Linked DNA regions of Homo sapiens: region 2 is linked to region 1. The links come from fine-mapping of genetic effects on plasma protein levels. Region 1 holds a variant in brackets. A gene starts in the other region. All regions are shown on their forward strands.

Region 1 (5,376 bases):
AAGTATGATAAATCTGCATGATAGCATTATTTTACAGGCATTAAAATTAAGCTTTGGAATGCTTCTTAATTGTATGGGAGATGTTCATAATATGATATTAAATCTAAAGAGCAGGAGACATCAATCTTAGCTACTCAGGAGGCTGAGGCAAGAGAATCGCTTGAACCCAGGAGGCAAGGGTTGCAGGGAGCTGAGATCGCACCACTGCACTCCACCCTGGGGGACAGAGCGAAACTCTGTCTCAAAAAAAAAAAAAAAGAAAAAGAAATCAGAGCCCTTTACTCCTCTGGCGGTTTCGACTGCCTGCCGGAACTGGCCTCCATTCTCTCTGGATTCCTCCTCTCCCACCTGCTGTTCTCTTGTCCCCGAAGTGAGTCCCAGAACAGCCAAGGCTCTGGTAAGGGTGTAGGACGGAGCAGAAGGGAGCTGGAAAAACACGATAGTAAAAGAAAGTCAGGAGAAAATCCGGGTGGAAAGACGAGAGGGAGAGCTAGAGCTCAGAGTTCCAGAAAGGAAAGTGTGCCGTCACCGCCTCATCATAAAAGCCATCCACAACTTCCTTCCATGAGGCTCACTGAGAACAGCGGCACCAAGACACAACCAGGAACTGCCCCAGGAGTGACTTCACGAGCAGTTTATTCATTGCAATTGTTCTCATGGTGATAAAGAAAAAGTACCAGGAGATGGATCCTGGACTGGAAGGTCAGAGAAGCCTCCCTGAAAAGGTGGCATCTAAGCTGAGGCTGTGAATGCTGAGCAGAAGTTAGCCCGTGGCCAGGGGAGGTCAGAGGCTGGAGTAAGAGGTGGGCGCTGCAGGAACCGAGTAAGGAAGGACTCGTGCATTACAGGAAGGGGGAGAAATGCTCTGCCCATGGGATGTGGTGAAGGGTGAGCGGAGATGGAGTAAAGAACTGCATCTGGCCGGGTGCAGCGGCTCAGGCCTATAATCCCAGCACTTTGGGAGGCTGAGGCGGGCGGATCATGAGGTCAGGAGTTCAAGACCAGCCTGGCCTACACGGTGAAACCCCGACTCTACTAAAAATACAAAACTTAGCTGGACGTGGTGGCGCATGCCTGTAATCCCAGCTACTCGGGAGGCTGAGGCAGGAGAATTGCTTGAACTGAGGAGGTGGAGTTTGCAGTGAGCTGAGATTGCACTGCTGTACTCCAGCCTGGGCGACAGAGCGAGACTCCGTCTCAAAAAAAAAAAAAAAAAAAAAAAAAAAGGCTTTCAACAGCATTACAGAGTCTGTGTTCTTTTGATTGTTAACCTCTTTTTTTTTCCTACCTTTAGTTTTCTCCAGGGTGTTTTCACGCAATTGGAAGATTATTTGGCCTCTTTCTGAACAATGTCCAGCTGGGTCCCAGCCTTACAGAGAAGCTATGTTTGGAATTAGCAAACACAAGCATTCGGAATCTGTCTCTGAGTAACAGCCAGCTGTCCACCACCAGCAATACAACTTTCTTGGGACTAAAGTGGACAAATCTCACTATGCTCGATCTTTCCTACAACAACTTAAATGTGGTTGGTAACGATTCCTTTGCTTGGCTTCCACAACTAGAATATTTCTTCCTAGAGTATAATAATATACAGCATTTGTTTTCTCACTCTTTGCACGGGCTTTTCAATGTGAGGTACCTGAATTTGAAACGGTCTTTTACTAAACAAAGTATTTCCCTTGCCTCACTCCCCAAGATTGATGATTTTTCTTTTCAGTGGCTAAAATGTTTGGAGCACCTTAACATGGAAGATAATGATATTCCAGGCATAAAAAGCAATATGTTCACAGGATTGATAAACCTGAAATACTTAAGTCTATCCAACTCCTTTACAAGTTTGCGAACTTTGACAAATGAAACATTTGTATCACTTGCTCATTCTCCCTTACACATA[C/T]TCAACCTAACCAAGAATAAAATCTCAAAAATAGAGAGTGATGCTTTCTCTTGGTTGGGCCACCTAGAAGTACTTGACCTGGGCCTTAATGAAATTGGGCAAGAACTCACAGGCCAGGAATGGAGAGGTCTAGAAAATATTTTCGAAATCTATCTTTCCTACAACAAGTACCTGCAGCTGACTAGGAACTCCTTTGCCTTGGTCCCAAGCCTTCAACGACTGATGCTCCGAAGGGTGGCCCTTAAAAATGTGGATAGCTCTCCTTCACCATTCCAGCCTCTTCGTAACTTGACCATTCTGGATCTAAGCAACAACAACATAGCCAACATAAATGATGACATGTTGGAGGGTCTTGAGAAACTAGAAATTCTCGATTTGCAGCATAACAACTTAGCACGGCTCTGGAAACACGCAAACCCTGGTGGTCCCATTTATTTCCTAAAGGGTCTGTCTCACCTCCACATCCTTAACTTGGAGTCCAACGGCTTTGACGAGATCCCAGTTGAGGTCTTCAAGGATTTATTTGAACTAAAGATCATCGATTTAGGATTGAATAATTTAAACACACTTCCAGCATCTGTCTTTAATAATCAGGTGTCTCTAAAGTCATTGAACCTTCAGAAGAATCTCATAACATCCGTTGAGAAGAAGGTTTTCGGGCCAGCTTTCAGGAACCTGACTGAGTTAGATATGCGCTTTAATCCCTTTGATTGCACGTGTGAAAGTATTGCCTGGTTTGTTAATTGGATTAACGAGACCCATACCAACATCCCTGAGCTGTCAAGCCACTACCTTTGCAACACTCCACCTCACTATCATGGGTTCCCAGTGAGACTTTTTGATACATCATCTTGCAAAGACAGTGCCCCCTTTGAACTCTTTTTCATGATCAATACCAGTATCCTGTTGATTTTTATCTTTATTGTACTTCTCATCCACTTTGAGGGCTGGAGGATATCTTTTTATTGGAATGTTTCAGTACATCGAGTTCTTGGTTTCAAAGAAATAGACAGACAGACAGAACAGTTTGAATATGCAGCATATATAATTCATGCCTATAAAGATAAGGATTGGGTCTGGGAACATTTCTCTTCAATGGAAAAGGAAGACCAATCTCTCAAATTTTGTCTGGAAGAAAGGGACTTTGAGGCGGGTGTTTTTGAACTAGAAGCAATTGTTAACAGCATCAAAAGAAGCAGAAAAATTATTTTTGTTATAACACACCATCTATTAAAAGACCCATTATGCAAAAGGTAGGTAAACATTGTGAAATTTTAAGTGTGTACTTGCTTTTCAATTAAATTTCTTTTTTTTTTTTTGAGATGGAGTCCTGCTCTGTTGCCCAGGCTGGAGTGCAGTGGTGTGATCTCAGCTTACTGCAGCCTCCACCTCCTGGGTTCAAGTAATTCTCCTGCCTCAGCCTCTCAAGTAGTTGGGATTACAGGCACGCGCCACCAAGCCTGGCTAATTTTTGTATTTTTATTAGAGATGGGGTTTCACCGTGTTGGCCAGGCTTATCTTGAACTCCTGGCCTCAGGTGAGCTTCAATTAAACTTTTAAATATTACCAATATTACTCACAACTCAAAGAATTTTTAAAATAAAATTAAGAAAAAAAAAACCTGAGTTTCAGTAACAGTTTAAACTCTACAGAGTATTTTTAAATAGTATTGCTTCTGGCTGTTAAAAACCGTATATTAATTCTTCAATACATTTTTTTACTTAGATTCAAGGTACATCATGCAGTTCAACAAGCTATTGAACAAAATCTGGATTCCATTATATTGGTTTTCCTTGAGGAGATTCCAGATTATAAACTGAACCATGCACTCTGTTTGCGAAGAGGAATGTTTAAATCTCACTGCATCTTGAACTGGCCAGTTCAGAAAGAACGGATAGGTGCCTTTCGTCATAAATTGCAAGTAGCACTTGGATCCAAAAACTCTGTACATTAAATTTATTTAAATATTCAATTAGCAAAGGAGAAACTTTCTCAATTTAAAAAGTTCTATGGCAAATTTAAGTTTTCCATAAAGGTGTTATAATTTGTTTATTCATATTTGTAAATGATTATATTCTATCACAATTACATCTCTTCTAGGAAAATGTGTCTCCTTATTTCAGGCCTATTTTTGACAATTGACTTAATTTTACCCAAAATAAAACATATAAGCACGTAAGAACATTGTCTACTGATTAATATACAATCAGCCACTGAGCCTATGACAGCTTAAGGAGTTTGAAAACATTCCTCATTTTAAGAAAAGTTAGAGGTATATGAGGGTTTGTGATGATCTTTTTGTATTTTGGATGCACTTAGAATGAAAGATAATTGTTTCAATGGGTATAATGCTATTTCCTTTGTAAAAGAGTAAAATATATACCCATATTTTTAACAAGTTTAATTACAGTATTTTTTCAATGGAAAAACTTTGTATTTTAGTAAGTACTTGTCTCAGTGTTGACTTTGTTAAATGTTAAATATTTTTTAATATACATACCCAAGGGCAGAAAACATTTGCAATTCATTTTTATTAGTTAATGAGATGATTATTTGAATGAATATTGACTTGTATTTTCCTGAGATTATGAGTTTCTGCTGTGGGAGGGTGGAAACAATTCTCTTACTAAAAGTATTGTAGGCAGGCTTGCTTTCTGAAGGCTAATCACTATTTGGCTTTGTGGAAACAGAACTTTCCTCCCATGGTCACAGACTCAGGAGATGGCGTTGGCAAAATCACTTGGTCCCACTGGGATTCTTTGACTCCTGATCTTGAAAATTATGATAATAAATGCATCTTAGATATTCCTATGTAATTAGTGATGATGATCGCTGTATAATATATTCAAAGGAATGTATTATTTTACCATAAAATAATGTGCTACGCATAAGGTAGTCCTTATCTAGAAAGACTATTTTTATTTTTGTTTTTTTGTTTGTTTGTTTTTTATTTGTTTGTTTTTGAGACAGAGTCTGGCTCTGTCGCCCAGGCTGGAGTTCAGTGGTCCAACCTCGGCCCACCGCAACCTCCACCTCTGAGTTCAAGCTATTCTCCTGCCTCAGCCACCCGAGTAGCTGGGATTACAGGCACATGCCACCATGCCTGGCTAATTTTTGTATTTTTAGTAGAGATGGGGTTTCACCATGTTGGCCAGGCTGGTCTTGAACTCCTGACCTCAAGTGATCCTCTCGCCTTGGCCTCCCAAAGTGCTAGGATTACAGGTGTGAGCCACCGCGCCCCGCCTTTTTATTTTGTTTTACAATACAACAAAAAATTTTTAGTTTTACAATAAAAGAGAATCTGATTATTGGAAATAGACCTGAATAGCTTTTTGAAATATTTATAGTTCTAGTATTTAAAGAGAAACCTGAAATTATAAAGCTGAGTTAATTTCTATACCTGAAATGTTCATTTGTCTGCTGAATTCAGGGAGCATTTGAGATGTCACATTTTGGAACTTTGATTTAAATAGTTCAGTATT
Region 2 (5,376 bases), not on the chromosome of region 1:
CCAGCGAATAAGGAGTTCCCTACCCCTCTCATGCTACCCAGAGGGACAGAAAGGAGAAGTGGGCCTGCTACCCCCAGAGGTTCTCATCTTCTACCTGGGCTGCATATGGAATAGGGAGCAAGTACATAGGACTCATCATACCCCATTTCTGCCTCTATCCCACTGTGGGACCTTAGGCAAGTCACTTTGCCTTCCTATGCCTCAGTTATCTCACTAGTAAAATGGGCATGATTATTGTATTAGTCAGGGTTCTCCAGAGAGACAGAACAAATAGGATGTTTGGATAAATAGATGATAGATAGAGAGATATAGACTAGATAGATGAGAGAGATAGACTAGATAGAGAGAGAGAGAGAGAGAGAGAGAGAGAGAGACTAGATAGATGAGAGAGAGATAGGAGGGGATTTATTAGGGGAATTGGCTCAGACAATTAGGGAGGCTAAGAAGTTCCACAACAGGCCATCTGCAAGCTGGAGAACCAGGGAAGCTTGTAGTGCAGCTCAGTTCCAGAATAAAAGCCTCAGGACTTAGGGGGTAGCTAGTGCAAGTCCCAGCATTTTTTTTTTTTCTGAGATGGAGTCTCACTCTGTTGACCAGGCTGGAGTGCAGTGACATGATCTCAGCTCACTGCAGCCTCCGCCTCCAGGGTTCAAGCGATACTCCTGCCTCAGCCTCCCAAGTAGCTGGGACTACAGGCCTGTGCCACCACGCCTGGCTGATTTTTATATTTTTAGTAGAGATGGGGTTTCACCATGTTGGCCAGGCTGGTCTCGAACTCCTGACCTCAAGTGATTCACCTGCCTCAGCCTCCCAAACTGCTGGGATTACAGGCGTGAGCCACCATGCCCAGCTGCACATCCCAGCATTCAAAGACCAAAGAGCCTGGAGTTCTGATGTTTAAGGGCAGGTGCAGGGTGTCCCAGCTCATAAGAGAGAGCAAATTCTCCTTTCCTCTGCCTTTTTGTTCTATTCAGGCCCTCGGCCAATTGGATGGTGCCCACCACATTGGGTAACAACGGGTCTTCCTTACTCAGTCCATTGATTCAAATGCCAATCTCTTCTGGAAACACCCCAGAGTCATACCCAGAATTAACGCATCACCAGCTATCTGATAAACTTAACCAGTCAAGGTGACACCTAAAATTAACCATCACAATTATAAAAATAACTACTCAGAGAAACATTAGGAGCATGAACTGAAATTAGTTAATGGGACATTCTTAAACCAATGGCAGAAGCTCCTTCTTGGCCAGGAGCAGTGGCTCATGCCTTTAATACTAGCACTTTGCGAGGCTGAAGCAGGAGGATGGCTTAAGGCCAGGAGTTCAAGACTGGCCTGGGCAACATAGTGAGACCCCTATCTCTACAAAAATAAATAAATAAATAATAAAGTAAGGTGGTGGCTCACGCCTGTAATCCCAGCACTTTGGGAGGCCAAGGCAGGCAGATCATCTGAAGTCAGGAGTTCGAAGCCAGCGTGACCAACATAGTAAAACCCAGTCTCTACTAAAAATACAAAAACTAGCCAGGCGTGATGGCATGCACCTGTAATCCCAACTACTTAGGAGGCTGAGGCAGGAGAATCGCTTCAACTCGGGAGGCAGAAGTTGCAGTGAGCCAAGATTGCACCATTGCACTCCAGCCTGGGCAACAAGAGCAAAACTACGTCTCAAAAAATAATAATAACAATAAAATAAAAAACAAGCTTTTTTTTTTTTGAAACAGGATCTCACTCCATCACCCAGGCTGGAGTGCAGTGGCACGATCTTGGCTCACTGCAACCTCCGCCTCCCGGGTTCAAGTGATTCTCATGCCTCGGCCTCCTGAGTAGCTGAGACCACAGGCGCATGCCACCACACCTGGCTAATTTAGAATAAAAAAGAAGCTTCCTCTCTGCCACTCAGGTAGCCTTATCCCTAATCTCAGCCTCCGTCAGGGACTCCCTGAGGCCAGTTGGCTGAAAGCTGCCCAGGGAGTTCTAAGGATTTCAGTTTCTCTTTCCTTCTTGATGCAGCTCCCAGCTCACTTGGCCCTGCCCACACCTGTTCCCTCATCAGGCTCCCAGACGGGCCCCGCCCACTCATGCCTCTTAAGTCAAAGTGGAAATTCTCATTTCCAATTACCTTTTCACTTTACACACATCATCTTGGATTGCCCATTTTGCGTGGCTAAAAAGCAGAGCCATGCCGCTGGGGAAGCAGTTGCGATTTAGCCATGGCTGCAGCTTGGACCGTGGTGCTGGTGACTTTGGTGCTAGGCTTGGCCGTGGCAGGCCCTGTCCCCACTTCCAAGCCCACCACAACTGGGAAGGGCTGCCACATTGGCAGGTTCAAATCTCTGTCACCACAGGAGCTAGCGAGCTTCAAGAAGGCCAGGGACGCCTTGGTGAGTTCCTGTTGCTGTGGATGAACCACTTCTACGGGTGTCCCAATTACTGCCCTTCTACTGTGGGCTAGCCTCTAGCCTTCCAACTATGGCAAACCTCTATCCTTTCTGCACTGGGTTAAACCCATGCTGTCAGGCCAACTTCATCCTTGCTGCTATGAGCTAGCTTCCAGCCATCCTGCTGTGGGCTAACCCCTGCCCTTGCTCTCTAGGAAGAGTCACTCAAGCTGAAAAACTGGAGTTGCAGCTCTCCTGTCTTCCCCGGGAATTGGGACCTGAGGCTTCTCCAGGTGAGCTGAAAGTCAGGCCCCCTTCACCCTTCCCTTGACCCTCTCCCCCCTCTTCTTAAGTGGCCCCTTAGCCTTCTTTGTTTCCCTTGTCCTTCACTCTCTTGGACCTCTCCTCACCTGTCCTGTGCCCCTGCCACTTCAAAACTGCTCTCTTGACTCTGTCCTTCCCCTGGGTCCCTTTTATCATCTCCCATCGGCCCCACTTCCCTAGCTCGCTCACCTGTCCCTGTCACTTCCACTCTCACTCTTCATTTCTCTCCCAAATGTCTCCAGTCTGTCGCCCACCTGTGCCTTTCGTCCTGCTCCACTTCTCCCTGTCTGTTCCCAACACTGACCCCCTCTCCCTCTCACCTGCCTCTGTCACCTGTCCCTCATTATCTCTCACTGACATTCATCCAGCTCATGCTCCCCCCTCATCCACCCTTCTCTTTTTTTTTTTTTTTTTTTTTTTTTTGAGACAGAGTCTTGCTCTATGGCCCAGGCTGGAGTGCAGTGGCATGATCTCGGTTCACTGCAACCTCTGCCTCCCGGGTTCAAGCAATTATCCTGCCTCAGCCTCCCGAGTAGCTGGGATTACAGGCATGTGCCATGATGCCCAGCTAATTTTTGTATTTTTAGCAGAGACGGGGTTTCACTATGTTGGCCAGGCTTGGTCTCGAAATCCTGACCTCAGGTGATCCACCCGCCTCGGCCTCCCAAAGTGCTGGGATTACAGGCGTGAGCCACCACACCCAGCCCTACCCTTCTTCTCTGTGCATGCAACTGTCCCTCTCTTACTGTGCCCCCAACCTGCTTTCTCCTCACCCGTCCCCACCCCGCCCCAGAGAACTTCTGTGACCCCCGTAAGTCCCCTTTCATTTGTCTCCATTTCACTTATCCCCTCACCTGCCTCCTTGACCATCCTGCCTCACCTGTATCCTTCCTCATGTCTTCCCCCTCCTGTCTCCTTCTCCCCAGACCCCTCACCTGTCCCCACCACATGCACTGTGTCACCGACCTTCCCCAGGACTGCCTACCTGTCCCCACTAACTGGGTCTTCTTGCCTGTTCTCCCTCACCTGCTCTTTCTCACCTCTCCTCAGGTGAGGGAGCGCCCTGTGGCCTTGGAGGCTGAGCTGGCCCTGACGCTGAAGGTCCTGGAGGCCGCTGCTGGCCCAGCCCTGGAGGACGTCCTAGACCAGCCCCTTCACACCCTGCACCACATCCTCTCCCAGCTCCAGGCCTGTGTGAGTCCTTGGGGCCCGGGCACCCAGGTCTGTGGGCTCTGAGCAGCATCCTTCCCCTGTGGTGGCCCAGGCTCCGCCTCACACACCGCCCTCTTCTGCCCACAGATCCAGCCTCAGCCCACAGCAGGGCCCAGGCCCCGGGGCCGCCTCCACCACTGGCTGCACCGGCTCCAGGAGGCCCCCAAAAAGGTGAGTGACCCAGGAAGAGAAGGACCAGGGTCTGGGGAGCCAATAGGAGCCCAGACCCTGGACAGCCCCTGACCCATCCCCTCCTCCCCTACAGGAGTCCGCTGGCTGCCTGGAGGCATCTGTCACCTTCAACCTCTTCCGCCTCCTCACGCGAGACCTCAAATATGTGGCCGATGGGAACCTGTGTCTGAGAACGTCAACCCACCCTGAGTCCACCTGACACCCCACACCTTATTTATGCGCTGAGCCCTACTCCTTCCTTAATTTATTTCCTCTCACCCTTTATTTATGAAGCTGCAGCCCTGACTGAGACATAGGGCTGAGTTTATTGTTTTACTTTTATACATTATGCACAAATAAACAACAAGGAATTGGAACCTTCTGTGATAGGTGAATCCTTGAGTGTGTGTGTGATTGTGGGTCTGTGACTGGGTGTGGATGTCTGGGTGATGCAGGCAAAATTTGTGACTCGTTGTGTATATTTGTGTGTGCCTGACTTCTGTGACTATGTATGTATTTGTATGGAAATGAGTGTCTGCCTGAACTTGAGTCTAACCAAAGGTGCGTAACTGTGCATGTTCATGCCCACACGTGTGCAAGTATGTGTGTGTACTGCCAGGCATGGTGGCTCACACCTGTAATCCCAGTGCTTTGGGAGGCTGAGGCAGGCAGATCACTTGAGGTCAGGAATTTGAGACCAGCTTAGCCAACATGGTGAAACCCTGTCTCTACTAAAAGTACAAAAATTAGCCGGGAGTTGTGGCATGACCCCGTAATCCCAGCTACTCGGGAGGCTGAGGCAAGAGAAATGCTTGAACCCGGGAGGTGGAGGTTGTGGTGAGCCGAGATCACATCACTGCACTCCAGCCTGGCCACCAAGAGAGAAACTCCATCTTAAAAAAAAAAAAAAAAAAAAAAAAAAAAAAAAAAAAAAGGCCAGCCTCCGTGGGCTCAGGCCTGTAATCCTAGCACTTTGGGAGGCCAAGGCGGGCAGATCACTTGAGGTCGGGAGTTTGAGACCAACCTGACCAACATGGAGAAACCCCATCTCTACTAAAAATACAAAAATTAGCCGGGTGTGGTGATGCATACCTGTAATCCCAGCTACTCGGGAAGCTGAGGCAGGAGAATCGCTTGAACCCGGGAGGTGGAGGTTGTGGTGAGCGGAGATCACGCCATTGCACTCCAGCCTGGGCAACAAGAGTGAAACTCCGTCTCGAGAAAGAAAAAAAAAAAAAGAAAGAAAAGAAAAGAAAAGCGGTCAGGATGCTACATCCTGGAACCTAA

Which allele goes with the higher level. Alleles are on the strand shown, and positions count from the first base shown. The strength of an association depends on the size of the effect and on how common the allele is.
With allele C in place of T in region 1, the plasma level of the protein whose gene starts at base 2,200 in region 2 is higher (moderate association).

Evidence for each region. PIP is the chance, under the fine-mapping model, that this variant and not a neighbour inherited with it causes the effect. The UK Biobank Pharma Proteomics Project read protein levels with antibody pairs (Olink). The fine-mapping took linkage between variants from a reference panel, not from the people measured, so its PIPs are less certain.
Region 2: it holds the start of IFNL1, and the variant in region 1 is fine-mapped to the plasma level of the IFNL1 protein (UK Biobank, PIP above 0.99).

The regions. Positions count from the first base shown.
Region 1 is chr4:186,081,026-186,086,401 of GRCh38, forward strand. It overlaps TLR3 (toll like receptor 3), which reads left to right. Exons shown (of 5, transcript NM_003265.3): 4 at 1,295-3,147; 5 at 3,620-5,376. The coding sequence ends at 3,848. Among named protein-coding and RNA genes, the nearest start is that of TLR3, 15 kb to the left of the region's middle. The variant C/T (reference allele first, on the strand shown) is at 1,895.
Region 2 is chr19:39,294,208-39,299,583 of GRCh38, forward strand. It overlaps IFNL1 (interferon lambda 1), which reads left to right and starts at 2,200. Exons shown (of 5, transcript NM_172140.2): 1 at 2,200-2,385; 2 at 2,598-2,675; 3 at 3,757-3,900; 4 at 4,006-4,089; 5 at 4,184-4,466. The coding sequence starts at 2,215. The coding sequence ends at 4,309.